Linked DNA regions of Homo sapiens: region 2 is linked to region 1. Evidence: fine-mapped expression QTL. A gene starts in region 1. The other region holds a variant in brackets. All regions are shown on one strand. Distances are between the middles of the regions.

Region 1 (10,127 bases):
AAATGCATTTACTCTTTGACCCAGTAATCTCACTCCTAGAAAGGTATCCTATAAATACACCTGCATGTGTAGAAAATGACCTATGTATAGCTCTTCATTGTGGTAGTGCTATTTTAGCAAAAGATTAAAAACAACCCAAGGGTCTAGCAATAAGAGACAGACTGAATAAATTATATTAATAGTATATCTACCCCATGGAATATTATGCAGCTGTAAAAAGGAGAAACAATCTCCATGCACTCATATGAATTTCTCCTCAGAACAAACTATAAAGCAGGAAAAAAAACCTATTTGGTATAAAAAGGGGTGATTAAAAAAAGAGAAAAGCAATAATATAAAAATACATGTATTTACAAAAAAATACTGGAAGGATAAATAAGAAATGAAGAAATTCGGTTATTCGGGACAAGATGAGGAATGGGTAGAAGGGGACAGGAGTGGAAGCAACATTTTTCAATGTATAGCTCTTTATATTATTTTTGAACCATGTAAAAGTGTTATCTATTCAAAGCGTCAAAATTTAAAACTAGTTTAAAAATATTTTGGCTTTTAAAATAAAATAGCTGTTTATTGAAAAATTTAAATACTTCAGGAGTAAATGTATAAAGTTAAAAGTGAGTCTCCTGTCTGATGATTTCCTTAATTATTAAATTATCCTTTCCTTGGAAAGTCTATCAGTTCCAAAAATTTAATAAGCATCAATTTTGAAATACTGTCAGAGATGTTTTGATCTAGCTACTATATTTATTTTCCTTACCTGTAAAATGCGATCTTGTTACAGTCTCTGAAAATGTTTTTATCTACAGCTTCATCTTCAAGACTAAATAAAAAGACATTTTGAGAAATTTATTTCACACAGGGCTTGTGAATCCAACTTTTGTACCTTCTCTAACGACAGTATGAACATGCAAAATAAACCTTTGGAGTCTATTCTGCAATGCAAAATTGTGTCACGGCCACAGTATAACATAATAGCACATTATGTTGCAGAACAATAGCCTTTTGTAAACCCTCTGAGGTAAACAACAAAACATCAGGTTCTGGGATTACTCCAAAAGTAATGGGAAAAGATCACTGTCACTTATGAGGACATATTCTTTTGAAATAATGACTGAAGGCTATGACCACAAAAGTAAAATCTGAAGGAGGAAAACCAAAACAGCATCCCAAAACGAACAAACCAAAACCAACCAACCAGACAAACTAAGAACCATAACCCACCCACCGATTTATTCAAGAAAATATTTTCAGAATATTCTTCCTGAGAGCTGGGCTCTGAGGAAGATATGAACTGTGTTCAAGCTATCAGTTAGGGTTTTACCAGCAATCACAATACAAGCTGACAAATGCTTTAATAGAGGTGCAAGGTGCTAGAATAAGAACAGAACAGACGTAGAAGGGGAATTTCTTGCTTTTTAAGATGAGGTGACAAACTAGGGGCCATGTTTTTTAAAACCAAGTTTCCAGAAGAGCTGTTTCTGGGATAAAACATGAATGAGATATATGTATATTGAAGTTTGAGTATATGTATTTAAACTAGCCTCCATCTGATTAAAACAACTACAGATTATAAGGAGAAAAAAAAATTACACCGGCTTTCATGCACTAGTGTGGCCGAATGCATCTGTAGTCAGCATGTCCATGATTATGTAGAAAGCTATGACTGAACACAAACGTCGAAATATTATGAAAACAAGCCCAGGCAGATATACTTGGCCATACTAAAAAACTGTTTGTCCTTCACTGAACTCAGTCTTTGTCCGTTTATTTTAATTTATTAAAAAAATTTTTTTTGAGACAGGATCTCGCTCTGCCTCCTACGTTGGAGTGAAGTGGCACGATCTTGGCTTGCTGCAACTGCCGCCTCCTGGGCTCAGGCTATCTTCCTGCCTCAGCCTCCTGAGTAGCTGGGACTACAGGCCCACATCACCACGTCTGGCTAACTTTAAAATTTTTGTAGAGACAGGGATTCAGCATGTTGCCCAGGCTGGTCTGAACTCCTGGGTTCAAGCAATCTGCCCACCTATAGGCCTCCCAAAGTGCTGGGATTACAGGCATGAGCGAACCGGCCCAGTTTATTTTAATCAAGTGTACAAAGATTGGAGAATCTTTTGTTTCCTCTTTACAGCTTCGAAGAATTAACTCTGGGATGATATAGGAAGGGGTGATTATAGATGAATTTGGAAAGCAACATGCCTGAAATTCACGTGTTAAGAGTTCTGATTGCAACTTTTCCACTGTTAATGTTATTTAACCATCCTTTTTTTTTGGAGACAGGGTCTCACTTTGTTGCCCAAGCAGTGGCAAGATCACAGCTCCACTGCAGCCTCCAAATCCATCCTCCCAGTGGTCTCCCAAGTAGCTGGGACTCCGAGGGGGCGGGGAGGGGGTCTCGAACTCCTGAACTCAAGCGATCCTCCCACCTTAGCCTCCCAAAGTGCTGTGGGATTACCTGCGTGAGCCACTGCACCCGGCCTATTTAACCATCCTGAAAGTATTTTATGAGAGGCTATTAATATCAACTAACTTCCCGCGAATTGAGAGAAAAGATAAAGGTCAGCAAATACCAAATACGCAAATAAGAAATGCAATTAAAACACTATTCCCTGTTTCTAGGGACCCTGGGGTCACTCGCTACAGAAGCACTTGGCCTTTACCTTATTTCCTCTTTCACTGCTGCTTCCATGGCTTCTCTGTCACTCCGACCAGCTCCCAGCTCTCAGGACAAGGGCCCTGGGCGATCTTTTAAAAAAGCCGATTGGGTGTCTTTCTAAAATTACAACCAGTACTTCATCGTCAAGTTTCTGGGAAGGGAGTCCCCTCCAGATTCTCATGGAGTGACAAATCTTGACTCTTGCTCCTGGAATTTTTCAGGCCCAAACTAGCGTTTCTACAATGATTTATTTGGCAAATTTGTCTTGATTATGGGTGGCTGATGAGGAACGTGCTTTTGTTAGGAACCGAAACTGGGCGGCGGTGAGGGCGTGTACGCAATGAGTCCTAGAGGGTAAAAATCAAGAGCGTTAAGAACCTGGAAATGCCGAGACGGCCTCCCTGACTGGGACGAAGCATCTGCAGATCTATCTCAGTGGCGGGGTCACGCCACAGATTTTGAAAACTGACCCTCTCTGTCTCCGTTTTCGGTTAAGGGTGGGAAGTGCCGGCCGGGTCTTTGCTGGAGGCTAGGTCTCCAGCCAGATTGTACTGCAGCATCGTACTCTTCAGGGCTAGAAGGGGCCTTTGAAGGTTGTTACACTACCCAGTCTAGGAATCGCGTGTACTCCACCACCGCCGAATTCCAGCCTTTGCTTAAATACCACCCAAACCGGAGAACTCACTACTAGACGCCACTTGGGCAGCCAGGCTTAGGGCTTTTCCAGACTTTCTGGCCCCAAAGTCTGACATTGACTTAGAAGGGATGAAGGGCTGGGGCGAGCGGAAGTAGAGAGCCAAATCCTGCACGGGGTGCCTGCCTGGTCCTAAAACCTTTAACGGCTGGGAGACAGAAAAGACTCAGGCCAGGCTGGCATGTAGCGATCTCTCTAACCCAGCTGACCAGGTTCCAACAGGATGACGCCTGCGCAGTAGGTCCAAAGTCTCACGGCGCACAGACGACTGTCTGAGAGAGGGGCCGCTACGCCGCACAGCAAACAAGCTCCGCGACGTTTCCAGGACCCGGATAATCCCGCCCTTAGAGCAGAGCCGGAAGAAGGCGGGACGAACCGGAAGAGGGTGAAATGCTTTCGGTAGGCACTCCACGGCTGTGAAGATGGCGGCGGCTGCGTGGCTTCAGGTGTTGCCTGTCATTCTTCTGCTTCTGGGAGCTCACCCGTCACCACTGTCGTTTTTCAGTGCGGGACCGGCAACCGTAGCTGCTGCCGACCGGTCCAAATGGCACATTCCGATACCGTCGGTGAGTATTCACTTCACTAACGTCTGAACCTAGAGGAGCAAGGGGTGGGGCTACGGCGGCCCAAGGGGTCCATGAAGGTTCCGCAAAAGTCTCTTCAAAAGGGGTGGGGTTGCTGGGATGGTCTGTGTGGCTAGCCAACTGGGACCCACCTCCCTGGAGTGGAAAGCCGCGCACTTCTGTGATTAGGCTAGCGGGAATGTAAGGGCCACTTCAGCAACAGAAAGGAGTGGTGGAGCGGCTTCTCATCAGAAAAACAGAACTTTCAGTGCCTGACTTGAGATGTAAACTTGATGTACAAACGGAGAGTTGTTTATCTTTCAGATGTTTCACAGAATCCAGTGTCCCCGGGTTGGATAAGAAAGATATGTAAATAGGAGTCTTCATTTCTTTCTTTCTTTTTCTTCCTCTGCACTTCTTGGTCCCTGGGTAATTCTGCTTACGAGATGGTTCGACTTCGCTTCAACTTTGGAATGGCTATTCTAAGCTTTACTGTGTGACTAGAAAGCATAGAGATTTAAGAAATGTGTTTTAACATGGGAATGGTTAAAATTGAAGAAATAGTACTTAAAATTTAATGTGGTAAGGCTAGTCTTTCATTTGGATAATTAACTACATGGGTTGACCCTTTCTGCCCCTTACCCATTTTAAACCTTATTTCAGTAACAGGTATAGTCCTGTGAGCAGACAAAAACCAGATGCAGGGAGGAAATGCTGAAAAGCATTAGCCCCATTAAACCTACGTTGGCCTTTTTGTTTCATTCTGCTCTGCTCACTGACTGTAATGTCCAAATCTTATTTGGGCTTTTATTATGGTAAACGTTATACCTTTTGTTCAGTGGTGAAGATTTTCAGGTGTTCAGTTAGGTTTTTACTTGTTACTAAAATGGTTAATAGTTAAGTCTTTTTAGATTTGAAAATAAAACTCTGGTTATTTGCACACAGAATAGTTCATTAGAAAAAATGATTGGTTATTCTGAGCAGTGATTGGTGAGTAAAGGGAATGAACTGATTAAGGGGTACGTCCCATAAAGATTTAAGTTAAGTTGGAATTTCTAGCAGTCTTAGATAGTTATATGATGCTTTGGTAATTGAAGCCATCTGAGGCTAATTATCTTTCCTTTATGTTTGCAGGGGAAAAATTATTTTAGTTTTGGAAAGATCCTCTTCAGAAATACCACTATCTTCCTGAAGTGTGAGTTTTTGAATTTCATGAAGTTTTAATTTGAATTTTAAAAATTTATAGGTAATGTTTTAAATTACCTATTTTATAAGTTCTGAAATCTAATAGTCTGGCATTATCTAGGTATAAATATTTTTAGTATTACTAAGGTCCTTTTACTGAATCATCTTCAAAGTACTCGTGTGAACTTTATTTTCTTCTCTTGTTTTTCTGGTGTTTACATTGCATATATACACTATGTAGACATTATATATTAGTATATATAATGTATATATTAATATATATGCTGTATATACTACATTGAATATTCAGTCACATCTCAGTCGAATTACATTTACAGTTGATACTTTCTGAGAAAAGCATCCTTAGGTGATTTTGTCATTATGCAAACATCATAGAGTATACTTAAAACTGGATGGCACTACACGCCTAGTTTGTATGGTACAGCCTATTGCTCCTAGGCTATAAACCTGTATAACATGTTACTGTACTGAATGCTATAGGTGGTTGTAACACAATGGTAAGTTTTTGTATATCTAAACATAGGAAAGTAGAGTACAAATACGATATTACAATTTTATGGGACCCCCGTTGTATATGTAGTCTTTCATTTACTGAAATGTTATGTAGTGAATGACTGTGATTATGTTGGGGTTGATTCCCTGCATGGTGGTTTTAATCTGTTCTGTGTAGATTAAAGAGGTTTTACTCTTGTGTGCTTGTTAAATGTTTACTGCAAACATGACCTAGGTTTGTCAGGCCGTTGGCTGTGAAGGAATATATTTAGTAGATCCTTTATTTACAAAAGGAGTATTTTACTGCTTTGGAAGAGGAAGCTCAGATATTATCAAGAAATAGGGATTATGTAGAACAAAACTAGTTTGTCTAGTGGAAAAATGACTGTATCTGAATCTAAAGTATCCCATTGTGTGTTCAGTAAAAGCTTCCTTTTAGTTCTGAAACCGGCTTTAATTTAGAGAACGATTGATCGTGGGCAGCTTTATTTCTAGATGAGGGATAAAAATCCTGATGATAGATGTGTGATTCTATGCATACTGTCTTCACGGAAGTGCAAAATTTTAAGTCATAGTTGGATAATTTTATTCTTTTCAATTGTTTAGTGAGTAATTATTACTTATTGCATAGACTGTGGGGAAGTAATAGAAAAATGTTCTTCCCTCATCGAGCTTACATTCTAGTGGGAGTGAAAACAGCAGGTAGAATTTCTCTGAAGAATATATACTGTATCCATGAATATGTAATCAGTCTCCTGACCAGTGACTTATATTTGATTTAGATCAAATCTACTCTGACACTGGCCTTGTGAGATTGGTTTACTGGGTAACCTAGTAACCCTTGTCTTTTGGAATAGCTTGACAGCCTGTTTGCTGTTTTATTCTTTTATTAGGTCCAGTCTTTTTTTCTCGTGTAGTTTGATCTAGTGGTGTTTTGCCAAGTTAAACCAACTGCATTTTTTTTAAGATGGTGTCTCACTCTGTCACCCAGACTGGAGTGCAGTGGTACGATCTTGGCTTACTGCAACCTCCACCTCCCAGGTTCAAGCGATTCTCCTGCCTCAGCCTCCCGAGTAGCTGGGATTACAGGCATGAGTCTCTATGCCCAGCCCTAACTGCGTATTTTGAAGTGTTTATATTTCATTGTTTTTGGAGGATTTGAGGCACTTTATTTTTTGTTGTTGTTTTTTGAGACGGAGTTTTGCTGTGACGCCCAGGCTGGAATGCAGTGGCACGATCTCGGCTCACTGTAACCTCTGCTTCCTGGGTTCAAGCGATTCTTCTGCCTCAGCCTCCCGAGTAGCTGGGACTATAGGCGCGTGCCACCACGCCGGCTAATTTTTGTATTTTTAGCAGAGGTGGGGGTTTCACCATATTGGCCAGGCTGGTCTCGAACTCCCGACCTCAAGTTATCTGCCTGCCTTGGCCTCCCACAGTTCTGGGATTACAGGTGTGAGCCACCGTGCCCGGCCTGAGACACTTTAACATTATCTTTTTCTTTGTTATTTCTGTGCTTTCTCATATTTACCAGTTGTCTTTGATTTTGTACTTTTTGGGGGATGGTATATAGCTTTCCATGGAATAGCTGGGACCATTTTTTTTTTTTTTTTTTTTTTTGAGACGGAGTCTCGCTCTGTCGCCCAGGCCGGACTGCGGATTGCAGTGGCGCAATCTCGGCTCACTGCAAGCTCCGCTTCCCAGGTTCACGCCATTCTCCTGCCTCAGCCTCCCGAGTAGCTGGGACTACAGGCGCCCGCCACCGCGCCCGGCTAATTTTTTGTATTTTTAGTAGAGACGGGGTTTCACCTTGTTAGCCAGGATGGTCTCGATCTCCTGACCTCATGATCCACCCGCCTCGGCCTCCCAAAGTGCTGGGATTACAGGCGTGAGCCACCGCGCCCGACCTTATTGTCTCTTAAAGCCTTTCATTTAAAGTTCTAAATATTGTCTTGTAACATAAACAGCAGTATTTTTGCTGCCAAATTTCCTTACAAGTCTCCTGTTTGGGGGATGTGTTCTTACTGGCTTTTTATTAGTTAATCCTGTCCCTGTATGGATTATTTTGAATAGTTCATAGCCCAATTGCTTTTTATCATTTCCATAAATTCTATCCAACAGGTCAAATTTTTGAACATTCTAATAGAGTCCTTTGAAAATGTGTTGGTCATCTAAAAATTAGTTTGAGAAAACAGTTTAAAAGAAAAAAAAAGGAAGCTTATAATTAGGTTGCTTCTTTTGTTATGAATGAAAAGTAGATTCCTAAATGCAGTCATGTTTATTTTTGTCATGTTTATTATTACATTTATATAAAGTAGGGAGTCTTTAGTATATTTTTCCTTTCATAGCTAGAATCAAAGATAAAAGCGAATACTGACTTCCTCCAGCTAATCAGTCATATAGTCAGATTTACCCTCCCAAGTCTTCAGAATAATGTCTTGATCCATTAGAATACTGTGTTCCAAACTGTGTTTAATGAGCTTTATGAAGCTTCCATGATAACATGAGCTTCCTTGAGGCCTCTTTTAAGGTAGGCTTTGAAAAAAAAAATCTGATACTCTTATCTTTGCTTTTGCTATTTCTACCTTCCACAGCCATGTTTGCTTTTCGTTCATTGCTCTTTCTGTTCTATCTTGATATCTTTCAAGGTCTGAGATAGCAATTTTGCTCTCAGTGGAACTATTATGTATATCATCATTTAACACCATTTAACAGTTGTTAATATTGCCTTGTGACATGCATTCCTAATTTTATTATTGCTTGTCTCTTCAACTAGCCTTTTGAAGGGTCTTAATAATTTGTTTCCACTCGTTTCCCTCTTTAGCCTAACAGTGTGCCATTATACCTTTGTAATACTTGTGCTATTTATTTATTTATTTATTTATTTATGTTTTTTGAGACAGGGTCTCGCTCTGTCGCCCAGGCTGGAGTGCAGTGGTACCATCATGGCTCACTGCAGACTTGACCTCCTGGGCTCAAGTGATCCTCCTGCCTCCCTTGCCTGAGTAGCTGGGACTACAAGCATGTACCACCACGCCTAGCTTTTTAATCATTTTTTGTAGAGATGAGTTCTCACTATGTTGCCTAGGGTGGTCTTGAGCTCCTGGGCTCAAGCGATCCCCCTGCCTTGGCCTCCCAAACTTCTGGGGTTATAGGTGTGAGCTACCGCACCTAGCCTGCTCAATAAATACTTAAATAATAGAAGACTGGCTTGAATTTAGAGTGCTTTATCACTCCCAGGTTTTTCTCAATAGAGATCCAGAAGTTAGGACTTTATGGCATAAAAATAGATCCACAGTTTCCAGAGGTTAAAAACTGCTTACCTGCTATTTTTCTATGAACAACAATACTTTTATCTTAATATCCAGCTCTTTTTGCATGTATTATTTCAATACCTTATGTTTGGAGAAAGGATGGTCTTTGAGTATCTCAGTTTAGGGTACGAAATGAATAGGATATAGGTTAACAGCTTAGGAAAAATGCTTTGTTGGGGAATTATCTTTTGTTAACAAAGATTTCTTCTTTTGTAGTTGATGGAGAACCTTGTGACCTGTCTTTGAATATAACCTGGTATCTGAAAAGCGCTGATTGTTACAATGAAATCTATAACTTCAAGGTAAGGAACATAAAATTACAGAGTTTTTTTGGACCTTAGTGATTATCTGGTTCCAGTCTCTTAATTTCATAGAGGAAAGAGTATCATGTAGCTATGGAGGAGGAGAGCTGAAACTAGAATGCATGCTTCCCAATTTGCAGACCACCAATTCTCAAACTTTTTGGTTTCAGAACTCTTATATTTGTAAAAATTATTGTGGACTCCAGAAAGCCTTTGAGCATGTGGGTTATGCTATTAGAAATTACAACTGAGAAAATATAAAAATATTTATTAGTTTATTTTAAAGTAGCAATAATAAACTTATTGCATGTTAATATAAATAACTGTTTTTCCCAGAAAACCACACAGAAGAGTAGGATTGTTTTGTATTTTTGTAAATTTGTTTACTATCTGGCATAACAGAAGATCACTGTATTCTTATATTCCCTCCTTCACTCAGTCTGTTGCAATAATTTGGCTTAAGTACATGTAGAAAATAATGACCTCATACAGATATATAGTTGGGAAAAGGAATGGTATTTTAATGGCCTTTTCAGATAACTGAGGATATTCTTTTTTGATTCTATACCAAAACTCAACAAGTGGAAGTTTTTAAAGGTTAGTTGCAATGTGGAATCTGAAATATTAATGAACTTTTTTTGTACTCTGATAAGAAATCCACTGATATGAATGTATCTTTTACCTGTGTGTGATCTTGTAGCATCATTTATTGGTCATTTAGAAAATAGCAGTTGACTGAATTATATACATTTTTATAAATATTAACTCATTTCACACTTAGCTAAAAATTACATTGTTTATAACTATACCCTGCCCTCTTCATCTCATCAGTAGGTTCTTAAGTTTTGGAAGCCGTTAAATTCAGTGTAGCAGATACAAGTTCTTCAAAATTCCAGTTTTTGCTTG
Region 2 (10,127 bases), 60 kb after region 1:
TTACGCCACTCCAGCCTGGGCAAAAGAGTGAGACCCCATCTCAAAAAAAAAAAAAAAAGAAAAGAAAAAGAATTGTGGCCTGAGTTCATGGAAACTAGTTCTGGATATGTTCTGAATATTAGGTCATTTTAGAGTTTTTGTTTGTTTGTTTTTGTTTTGTTTTTTTTCAGGAAGCCTTTTGGAAGCATTTTGTCTGATTCTGATTCATTGTGTTGAATTGGCTGCTAAAAATGTTTTGTTCATTTCCCACTGACATGATCTTTGACACAGCATGTACAGTATCAAATTCCTTAGCTGTTCTATGTGTTGAAATAATTGAGAACTCTACCATTCAGATTTGAACCTATCTACATAACACTTTGCTTTCTGTGGTATATTCTGCTGTTCCCACATCTCCCTCTTGAGGTCTTCCTCTGCTAATTATTTGCCTTTAAGGCTTCCCTTGTACTTCAGCTCTCCATGAGCTGCTATAAGCAGAGAAGGCTGATTAATTGAAACCTGATTGTGCCCTTCATGGGAATGCAAGTTTGCTATAGTAATTTGGTGGCACTGAGTTCAGCCATCTGTTCATATTTTCCTCTGTGAAAACACTGTGCAAGATTTTCCAGGTATACATAAGGCTTTTTTGTGGTAAGAAAACATAACAATGAGATCTACTCTCTTAACTCCTTTAGTGTACGTTACAGTATTATTACGTATAAGCACAATGTTGTACAGCAGATCTCTAGAACATTTTCATCTCATTTAAATGAAATTTTATACCTGTTGAATAGCAACTCTTGCTTTCCCCCTCCCTCAGCGCCTGGCATCCATCATTCTATTTCTGCCTTTGAGTTCTATTTTAGATAACTCATATAAGTGGAATCATGCAGCATTTGTCCCCCTGTGGCTTGCTTATTTCACTTAGCATAATGTCTTCAAGATTTATCTAAGTTGTAGCACATGTCAGAATTTCCTTCCTTTTTAAGGTTGACAAGTGTTCCATTGTATATATGTAACATGTTATCTTCATCCATTTATCTGTCAGTGGACACGGGTTATTTCCATACCTTGGCTGTTGTGAATAATGTTGCAGTGAACATGGGAGTGCACATTTCTCTTTGAGATCCTGCTTCATTTCTTTTAGGTATATATGCAGAAGTGGGATTACTGGATTATATGGTAGTTATTTTTTAATTTTTTTGAGGAGCTTTCATACTGTTTTCCATAGTGATTGCACCATTTTACATTTCCACCAGCAATGCACAGGGGTTCCAATTTCTTTCTTTGCCCACATTTGTTATTTTTTGTTTTTTGATAATGACCATCCTAACAGGTGTGACGTGACACCTTGTGGTTTTGGTTTGTATTTCTCTGATGATTAGTGATGATGAGCATTTTTTTTATATACCTGTCAGCCATTTGGAAGCCCTCTTTTGAGAAATGTCTCTTCCAGTCCCTGGCCCAGTTTTTAATCAAGTTAGTTGATTTTTTGCTGTTGAATTGTAGGGGTTTCTTATATATTTTGGATATTAACCCTGATCAGATACAGTCCTATGCCACATTTCAGTCAGCAACGGACCACATATATGACAGTGGTCCCATAAGAACCTCCGGGTTCACGCCATTCTCCTGCCTCAGCCTCCCAAGTAGCTGGGACTACAGGCGCCCGCCACCACGCCCGGCAAATTTTTTGCATTTTTTTAGTAGAGACGGGGTTTCACCGTGTTAGCCAGGATGGTCTCGGTCTCCTGACCTTGTGATCCACCCACCTCAGCCTCCCAAAATGCTGGGATTACAGGCGTGAGCCACCGCACCTGGCCAATACTGAATTTTTACTGTACCTTTTCAATGTTTAGATAACTTTAGATACCCAAATACTTACCATTGTATTCCAGTTGCCTTTGGTATTCAGTACAGTAACATGCTGTACAGGTTTTTAGCCTAGAGCAATAGGCTTATACATATAGCCGAGGTATGTAGTAGGCTATATAACATCTAGATTTGTGTAAGTATATTCTGTGAAGTTCACACAGCTATGAAATTGCCTAATGATGCAGTTCTCAGAATGTATCCCTATCATTAAGTATACGTGACTGTATGTAGTATGCAAATATTTTCTCCAATTCTGTAGGTTGCTTTTCATTCTGTTGTGTGCTTCCCTTGCTGTGCAGAAGCTTTTTAGTTTGATGTAGTCCCATTGGTCTGTTTTGCTCTTGTTTTGTGCTTTTGGTGTCTTAGACAAGAAATCACTGCTAAGACCAATTTCAAGAAACTTAGGTTGTCTTCTAGGAGTTTTGTGGTTTCAAATCTTATGTCTAATTCTTTAATCTATTTTGACTTGTCTAAGTCTTTAATCTATTTTGAGTTGATTTTTGTGTATAGTGAAGATGAGTTACTTTCATTCTTTCTCATGTGAATATCTAGTTTTTCCAGCACCATTTGTTGAGGAAACTGTCAGTTTCCCCACTGTGTAGTGTTGTCTCTCTTTTCGAAGATCAGTTGACCATGTATGTGTAGTTTTATTTCTGGGCTTTCTATTTTGTTCCACTTGGTCATAGTATGTGATTCTTTCAACGTGCCGTTAAATTCTGTTTTCCATTGTTTCATTGAAGATTTTTGCGTCTGCTCATCAGGGATATTGGCCTGTCGTTTCTCTTCTTGTCATGTCTTTGGCTTTGGCATTAGGGTAATGCTGGCCTCATAGAATAAGTTTGGAAGTTCCTTCCAAATAAATGTTTTCGTCTTTAATTTTTTTGAAAGCGTTTAAGAAGGATTAGTGTTACTTTGTCTTTAAGTACCTGGTAGGACTCAACTAAAGAAGCCATCTGGTCCTGGGCTGTTTTTTTGTTGGGATGTTTTTGATTACTGATGGAATCTTGTTGTAGGTCTTACCAGGTTGTGTGTTCCCCCCCCGGATTTTCTATTCCTTGATGATTCAGTCTTGGTAGATTGTATACTTCTAGGAATTATATATTTTGTTCTAGGTTATCCAGTTTCTTGGCATATTTTTAAAAATGTTTTGTATATTTTTATTGAAATTCTTACTTTGTTCATGCATTGTTCTCCTGAGTTCGTTGAACATCTTCATGATAGTTGTTTTGCATTCTCTTTCAAATAATTCCTATACCTCTGTTTCACTGGGGTTGGTTTCCAGAGATTTATCTTCTTCCTTTGTTTGGGCCATGTTTCACTGATTCTCTATTTTCCTTAATTCTTTGTGTTGGTTTCATTGCATTAGAAAAAAAAACAGTTACCTTTCCAGTGTTCATGGACTGGCATTGTACAGGAGAACACCCTCATCAATCATTCTGATAGCCTCTCTAACCCACTCTGTATTATGTCTTTTCTGGACTTCTGCATATGTATTCCCAATCAGAGGGATTTGCTGGGTTTTTCCCTCCCCAGGAATTTATAATCTCTTGCTCCCTTTTGTGTTTATCTGCTGTATCATGGGTCTCCTGGAGCCAGTGGCATAGCCCAGCTCTTTTTTTGTTCATACTGGCCCCAGGCACCTAAAATATACTGGTCCCATCTGTGCTTCAAACCATTCCCTACAGAAACCATTCCCTCAGGTAACCTCTTACAAAGTTGGAACATTTTCACAGTCCATCTCTCCTCCCTAGGGAAAAGCTAGGATTTGGGGATGTTGGGGATTCTACCTGCTTACTCTGCACTGAGCTGGGGGAGCGGCTGTAGTGAGCTCATGCTTGCTAGTCCAAACTTCCACTTTGATTTCAGCAACTTCCAACCTGGGCCCTTTGTTTTTAGCTCTCGGACTCAGGCAAGACAGAAAACAGTCTCTCGTGCAGGTTCCAGAAAAGTCAGAATGTTGGATGTACATTCCAGTCATTTCCTTCCCTCTGCAAAAAGAAGCTGGGAGCTGAGGGTTTCCTCTCTATCATGTGGTACTGTGCTGGGTCCATGGGAAGGGAAGAATTATGGCAAGAGGGTGCCTCAGGTTTTTCTGCCGACTTTGATTCAGCTGGTTTCATGCTTTCCTATAGTGCAGAAGACCCTCAACTGGTTTCTGGATTTCCCACAAAGGGAATTTTTCCATGTGTTATTGAATCAGTGTGTCTGTAGAGGGAAGGAGTGTCCAGGGCTTCCTATTCTGTCATCTTGCTGACATCACTTTCTCCAAGGCCTTTTTTTCCCTTAAAACTGAAAAAGACCTTAAATGAATTACAGGAGAAACAATTTACATGATGGACCAGGAATCAAAATGGCATAAGGCTCTTCAACAACATCTTTGGGAGCCAGAACAAAGCCTTTGAATTCTGAGGAAAATCATTTTCAACCTAGAATTCTGTACTCAACTAAACTATCATTATGAGGGTAAAATAAAGATGTTTCTAGTCACACAAGAAGTAAAATAATTGATGTTCTATATGCAGTTTCTGAAGAAAGTAGGGGAAAATGTTCTCCACAAAAATGAGGAAGCTAGGAAAAAGACTTGGGATCTAGGAAATAAAGGGTCCAACACAGAGACAAGAAAAATTCCCAGTATGATGTAAGAAATTCTCAGGTTGGCAGCTGGGCACCAGGCTTGGATGGAGTGGAGAACAGAGAGCATCGGAAAGGATATTTTTAAGAAAAAGGGAAACATCTATAGATTATCTGATGTGATTGATTATATTCAAAAAGGATTTGTAGTTCTGTCAGTTTGTGATACAATAGTGAGAGGTACTTCGCAAATGAAGCAAAAGAAAAATGAAAATTAACTCTAAGGTATAAAATTGCCTAAGAAGGGAAATTTAAGGGTAGTACATTAATTATTTTAATTGAAATGGGATACTGTAAATACTATATTAAATTAAATGTAATTTTATTTTTTACATGATTTTTAAAAAGTGTAGTAAAAAACACATAACAAATCAACCCTCCTAACCATTCTAAAGTGCAAAGTGCTAACTAGGTGCACGTCTTTGCCCTCATCCTTCACTGGGTCTTCAAGTGAAATTCCTGAATTAGAGGAGTTACACATTTTTATTAAAGCCTAATCTTATGTAAATATTTGTTTACATAAGATCTTAGCTGACTCTATACATTTCCTTCTGAGTGCTGATTTTCTGTCCAGAAGCCTAGAGCTTTTGATTTAGTTGTTCTTGGGTGAGGTCTGGACATCTGTATGTTCAAAATCTTCACAAATGTTTAGGAACCATTTCTCTAAACATTTAATTAACATAAAGTACTCGTGGAAGATGTTTGCTTGGATAGTCTGTATAGAAGATATTTGGAATATAGATCATTTTAACCTAATATACTTCAACCTTTTTTTTTTTCCCTAGGAACGAATGATCACACACTTTGAAAGGTCCAAAATGGAGTAAGGAATGGGAAGATTTGCAGTTAAAGATGGCTACCATCAGGGAAGAGATCAGCATCTGTGTCAGTCTTCTGTACGGCTCCATGGGATTAAAGGAAGCAATGACATCCTGATCTGTTCCTTGATCTTTGGGCATTGGAGTTGGCGAGAGGTGTCAGAACAAAGAGAACATCTTACTGAAAACAAGTTCATAAGATGAGAAAAATCTACGAGCTTCTTATTTACAACACT[G/A]CTGCCCCCTTTCCTCCCAGACTCTGACATGGATGTTCATGCAACTTAAGTGTGTTGTTCCTGAACTTTCTGTAATGTTTCATTTTTTAAATCTGACAAACTAAAAAGTTTAACGTCTTCTAAAAGATTGTCATCAACACCATAATATGTAATCTCCAGGAGCAACTGCCTGTAATTTTTATTTATTTAGGGAGTTACATAGGTGATGGGGGAAATTGTTAACTACCTTTCATTTTCCTGGGAAGTCAAGGTTACATCTTGCAGAGGTTGTTTTGAGAAAAAAGGGCCCTTCTGAGTTAAGGAGCCATAGTTCTATCAATGATCAAAAGAAAAAAAAAAAAAGAGAAACTGTTACAGTATGATTCAGATCATTTAAAAAAGCAAAATCAAGTGCAATTTTGTTTACAAATGGTGTATATTAAAGATTTTTCTATTTCAGATGTACTTTAAAGAGAAATATTAGCTTAACTCTTTTGACATCTGCTATTGTGACACATCCCATTGCTGGCAATGTGGTGCACACTCCGAAACTTTTAACTACTGTTTTGTAAGCCTCCAAGGGTGGCATTGCAGGGTCCTTAGGCAATGTTTTGTTTGCCTTTATGCAGAGAGGTGCTCCAAGTGCTGTGATTGAGCACCGTGCTAGAGGAACTGTAATGCTTCAGAAGTTGTAGCTTATACAAAGGAAACAGGTCCTGCTGGCTTAATTTAAACAGTTATTGCATGAAGTAGCGTGGAGGCCCTGGACTGCTGCTCGTTCTTTAGGATGGACTGTTCTGGTATCTGGTATTGGTTTAGAGACTGTTAATAAGGGACATCACAAGGTGATGGGATTCATTTGAAGCACTCTATTTCTGTTTTAATGGTTTTATCCAATTTTGCCTTCCCAAGATTTTTGTTCTACATAAAAAGTTCATGCCACTTTTTAATATAAAAAAATTTAACAAAATTAATGTATTTTTCTCATTTTTTTCAAACTTTTTCTAAAGACTCTTTCTGTCAAACTCATGAAAAATTTCTTTCTATGGCTTTTATTCTAGATTGTCTTATTTTCTGTTAAAACCAATGACCACATGACCACAATCTTCACTAACTCATACTGCAGTGAAAGTGTTAACCCTTAGGTAGTTTCTCTACAACTCTTTGCTATGGTGATTTTTAAAAAAGTTTCCTAGGAAGTATCTCTGAGGAACAGCAATCTGAAGAACTGACTATATTCTCATGCTAAGTCATTAGCCAAAAGCTGGTGGTATTGTTGCATGCTGCTATTGCATATTAAAACGTAGCAGATGAATAATAGTTGTAATGCAGCAGGATAGTTGGTCAAATTATTTTTTTAGGCTGCTTTGATGTTGACTTGAGACTAGGAAAAAAAAAAGCCCATTGTGTTAAGCGGGAGTGTATAGTTCAAGTTCTATAGCCTGGGCCCTGATAATTCTACTTACAGCTTTCTGTATTACTGGGAATAGATATAGTGTGTCATTTCTTAGGTTCAGAAGAAATTGATAGCTTTGCAGTAATCTGTAAAACAATATAAACCTTAGGGTTTTGGGCCTGAACGAAAAGGTACTAGACCTTCCAGCACAACAGCTGGTAATTCTAAATTTTTAAGAAGGTGATCAGCTTCTATGGTGAAAATCAGCTATAACACAGGATTTGTGTAGCAATTTTCATGTTTTTGACTACTTGAAAGTACTTTTCACTTGATTATCAGAACAGCATTTGGTAAAGATGGGACAAGTATTCCTAATTTACATATGAAGAAACTGATATTGTGTAAAAATAAAATGACCAGGACCAGTTTTTTTGACTTCATATCACAGACTTACCCTTTTTCTTTTACATTTTTGCTTTAAACCCAAATGCTTAATTTTTTGACCTACGATGTTTTCCTAGGGGGAAATGACCAGATATAGATCATTCTTGCAGCCCAAACTTTGTTGTTTTTTAAGTCTTCAAGGGGAATACTAAGGTAACCGCAGACAGTACAGGTCCCAGGTCCTATAGGAGGAAAAGCCATGACACCTTCCTAAAGGAATATTAGGATGTAAGACACAGCTTTGGAAAGTTGAATTGGTAGGAATGTGGTCATCAAATTAAAAGGAGGCTTATTTCACTGACTTCCAAGAGTTAGTGAATCATCTCTTGCCTAAACTCTTGCTACTCAAAATGTGATCCAGGGACCAGCAACATCTGGGAGATTTTTGGTGCTCAACTGAGGGTCTTACTCTGGTCCTACTGAATCAAAAGAGGCATTTTAACAATGTCTCTAGGTGATTTGTATGCACGTTAAATTTGAAAAGCATTGGCCTCAAATGGTGGTTCTCAGGGTAATTTTGCCTCCCAGAGGACATACGGAAAAGAGACATTTTTATACCTCTGTGGGGAAGATAACTGGCATTTGGTGGGTGGAAGTTAGGGATGCTGTTAAACATCTTACATTGTACAGAACATGCCCCCTCCCCCAACAAGAAATTATCCTGTCCTAAATGCCGGTAGTGCTATCGCTGAACAACCCTAACCTAAAATGGTGGTTCTCAAGCTTTTAAGTGCATGGACTCACCTTGGGGTTTATTAAAACATAGGTTGCTGTTCCCTTCGAGTTTCAGATTCAGTAGAACTGGAATGGGCCTGAAACTTTGCATTTCTAACAAGTTCACAGGTGCTGCTGCTACTGCTGTTGTTGCTGGTCTAGAACCACTTTCAGAACCACTGGCCTAGAACAACCATGAAAGCATTAAGGTAAGGTGCTTGTACTAATTGGGATATAATGGTAATACTAAAGCTACCACTTACTGAGAGCTTAGTGGGTGTCAGGTGTTGCTAAGCGCTCACGACACTAGGTCACAGGTATTTACAAAAATTTTGCAGATTAGGAAAGTATGGCATCGAAATATTAAATTTTCTAAATCACAGCTAATTTCCTAATTGGTAGATCTCCGTCTGAGGTCGACGCCAAAGGCCGAGTTTTTAACCATCACGCCCACTGCCTAAAGCAGTTCTAAGATTAAGAGTTTGTTCCTTCTATGGTAAGCCCATGGCTACTCGGGATGGAGTAGCTATGGGTCCAGAGTGACGATGGCAACTCAGCAACAAAACAATTCATTTAGAGTGCACCGGGAGGAAGGGGCGGGACTTCGGCTGCGGAAGAGGCGGGCCTAACTAGCAGGAAGTCCGGGGTTGACGATGGCTGTGTTGTTGAAGGGCCTGTAGCCGGGGGGTTCCTGGCCGGATCCCGGTCTACCCTTAGCCCAGACTCGTTCCGGACCCCAGCCCGGCCCGGAACACTCTGGGCGAGACGGCGGTGGCAACTCTCCCCTTGCCGCCATGCACGACGCTTTCGAGCCAGTGCCGATCCTAGAAAAGCTGCCTCTGCAAATCGACTGTCTGGCTGCCTGGGGTGAGCCGAGGGGCCGCGGGGCCGAGGCGGAGTCAGCACAGGAGCGGTCCGGATCTTTTCTGAGGCCGGGGAAGTGGACAGGCGTCCATCCGTGTGGGCTTCGGTTGGATGCTACACGAGAGGGGCTTAGGATGAGAGAAGGCAGAGAGATGACCACCGGCTATAGACATCGATGTCTGTGGGGCTACTTGGGTGATCCCAGTGATCCAGTCATTTAGGGGAGTTCCCCTTGCTTTTGCTCTCTGTGCAGAGTGGGAGGATGAGCTTTCCTTTTTAGTTGTGCTCAGCTTTGGCCCATTTTGATTCCCACGAAGACTTCATTTTAGAGGGTCAAAGCAGTAAGAAGTTCTCAGCCTGCCAGGGGCTTGAAGTTGTCCAGATGTTTGTGTTGTTTTCTAGATGAAAGTCAACCCTGGTTTTGGGGGCATTGAACAAGTTAACACCATATGCTTTTTTTTCCCCTTAGTGATCATTCGTTCATTTCTCATTCCTGTAGGGAACTCATGTAGTTAGCTAACCTTTGAATCTAGCCAAGCGGTTGATTACCTTATATCCAAAGTGTCCAAGTTACCTAACTGTAGGCGGAAGAGTTTCCAGACTGTCTTGAAACCTAACCCATAAAAACTAGCATAGTCCTTTTGGGATTGACTAGTGCAGAAGGCCGGGACAGACATCTCTTGTGTGCTCTGAAATACAAATGAAGGTTTCAGGGATAACGGTGAACATTGTGCTCTTATCCGTGAGTGACTGGTTTGATACCAGCCGCCAAAGACCAAGGAAATCATTTCTAACTTTCCTCTTAATGTTTAGGTCCTAGAAATCAAGGACCATAAAAAGATGATTCAGATCCCTTAATCAGATCTTATACTGAGCTAGATAGGTAACCATGATGGGCCTTATGGAATCTTGGTGGTGTCTGATACCATGTGCGTCAGCTGTTCACAGTGTCACCGAGTCATCCTTGCAGAGTTCTTGATGACTTCTTCTGTAGGGTTCTTTCACGAAGAATTTTCATGTTAATGTGCACCCTTCCTCCTTTAGCAGCTCTGGGTCTCTTTAAAATCATACCTCCACAGTAAGCAGTTCTAGTCCTTTGGGTTAAGAGGAGAATCCTACTTCCTCCAGACATCTCAAGAAAACCAATTTCTGTCATTAAATGCTCTCATTAAACATTTAAATAGAGGAGGA

The links.
Region 2: its variant is fine-mapped to the expression of TMEM87A in whole blood (INTERVAL, PIP above 0.99). The same link has a PIP of 0.9 or more in T cells, blood mononuclear cells and monocytes.

Annotation. Positions count from the first base shown.
Region 1 is chr15:42,267,041-42,277,167 of GRCh38, reverse strand. TMEM87A (transmembrane protein 87A) reads left to right here and starts at 3,735. Exons shown (of 20, transcript NM_015497.5): 1 at 3,735-3,913; 2 at 5,045-5,105; 3 at 9,136-9,221. The coding sequence starts at 3,770. GANC (glucosidase alpha, neutral C) reads right to left here and starts at 3,967. Exons shown (of 24, transcript NM_198141.3): 1 at 2,658-3,967; 2 at 758-820. The coding sequence starts at 2,686. RefSeq lists enhancers at 2,574-3,773, 3,746-3,975, 4,136-4,385.
Region 2 is chr15:42,206,893-42,217,019 of GRCh38, reverse strand. VPS39 (VPS39 subunit of HOPS complex) reads left to right here and starts at 8,716. Exons shown (of 25, transcript NM_015289.5): 1 at 8,716-8,939. The coding sequence starts at 8,867. TMEM87A (transmembrane protein 87A) reads left to right here. Exons shown (of 20, transcript NM_015497.5): 20 at 5,271-6,573. The coding sequence ends at 5,312. VPS39-DT (VPS39 divergent transcript) reads right to left here and starts at 8,619. Exons shown (of 3, transcript XR_932181.3): 1 at 8,336-8,619; 2 at 8,103-8,256. The variant G/A (reference allele first, on the strand shown) is at 5,540.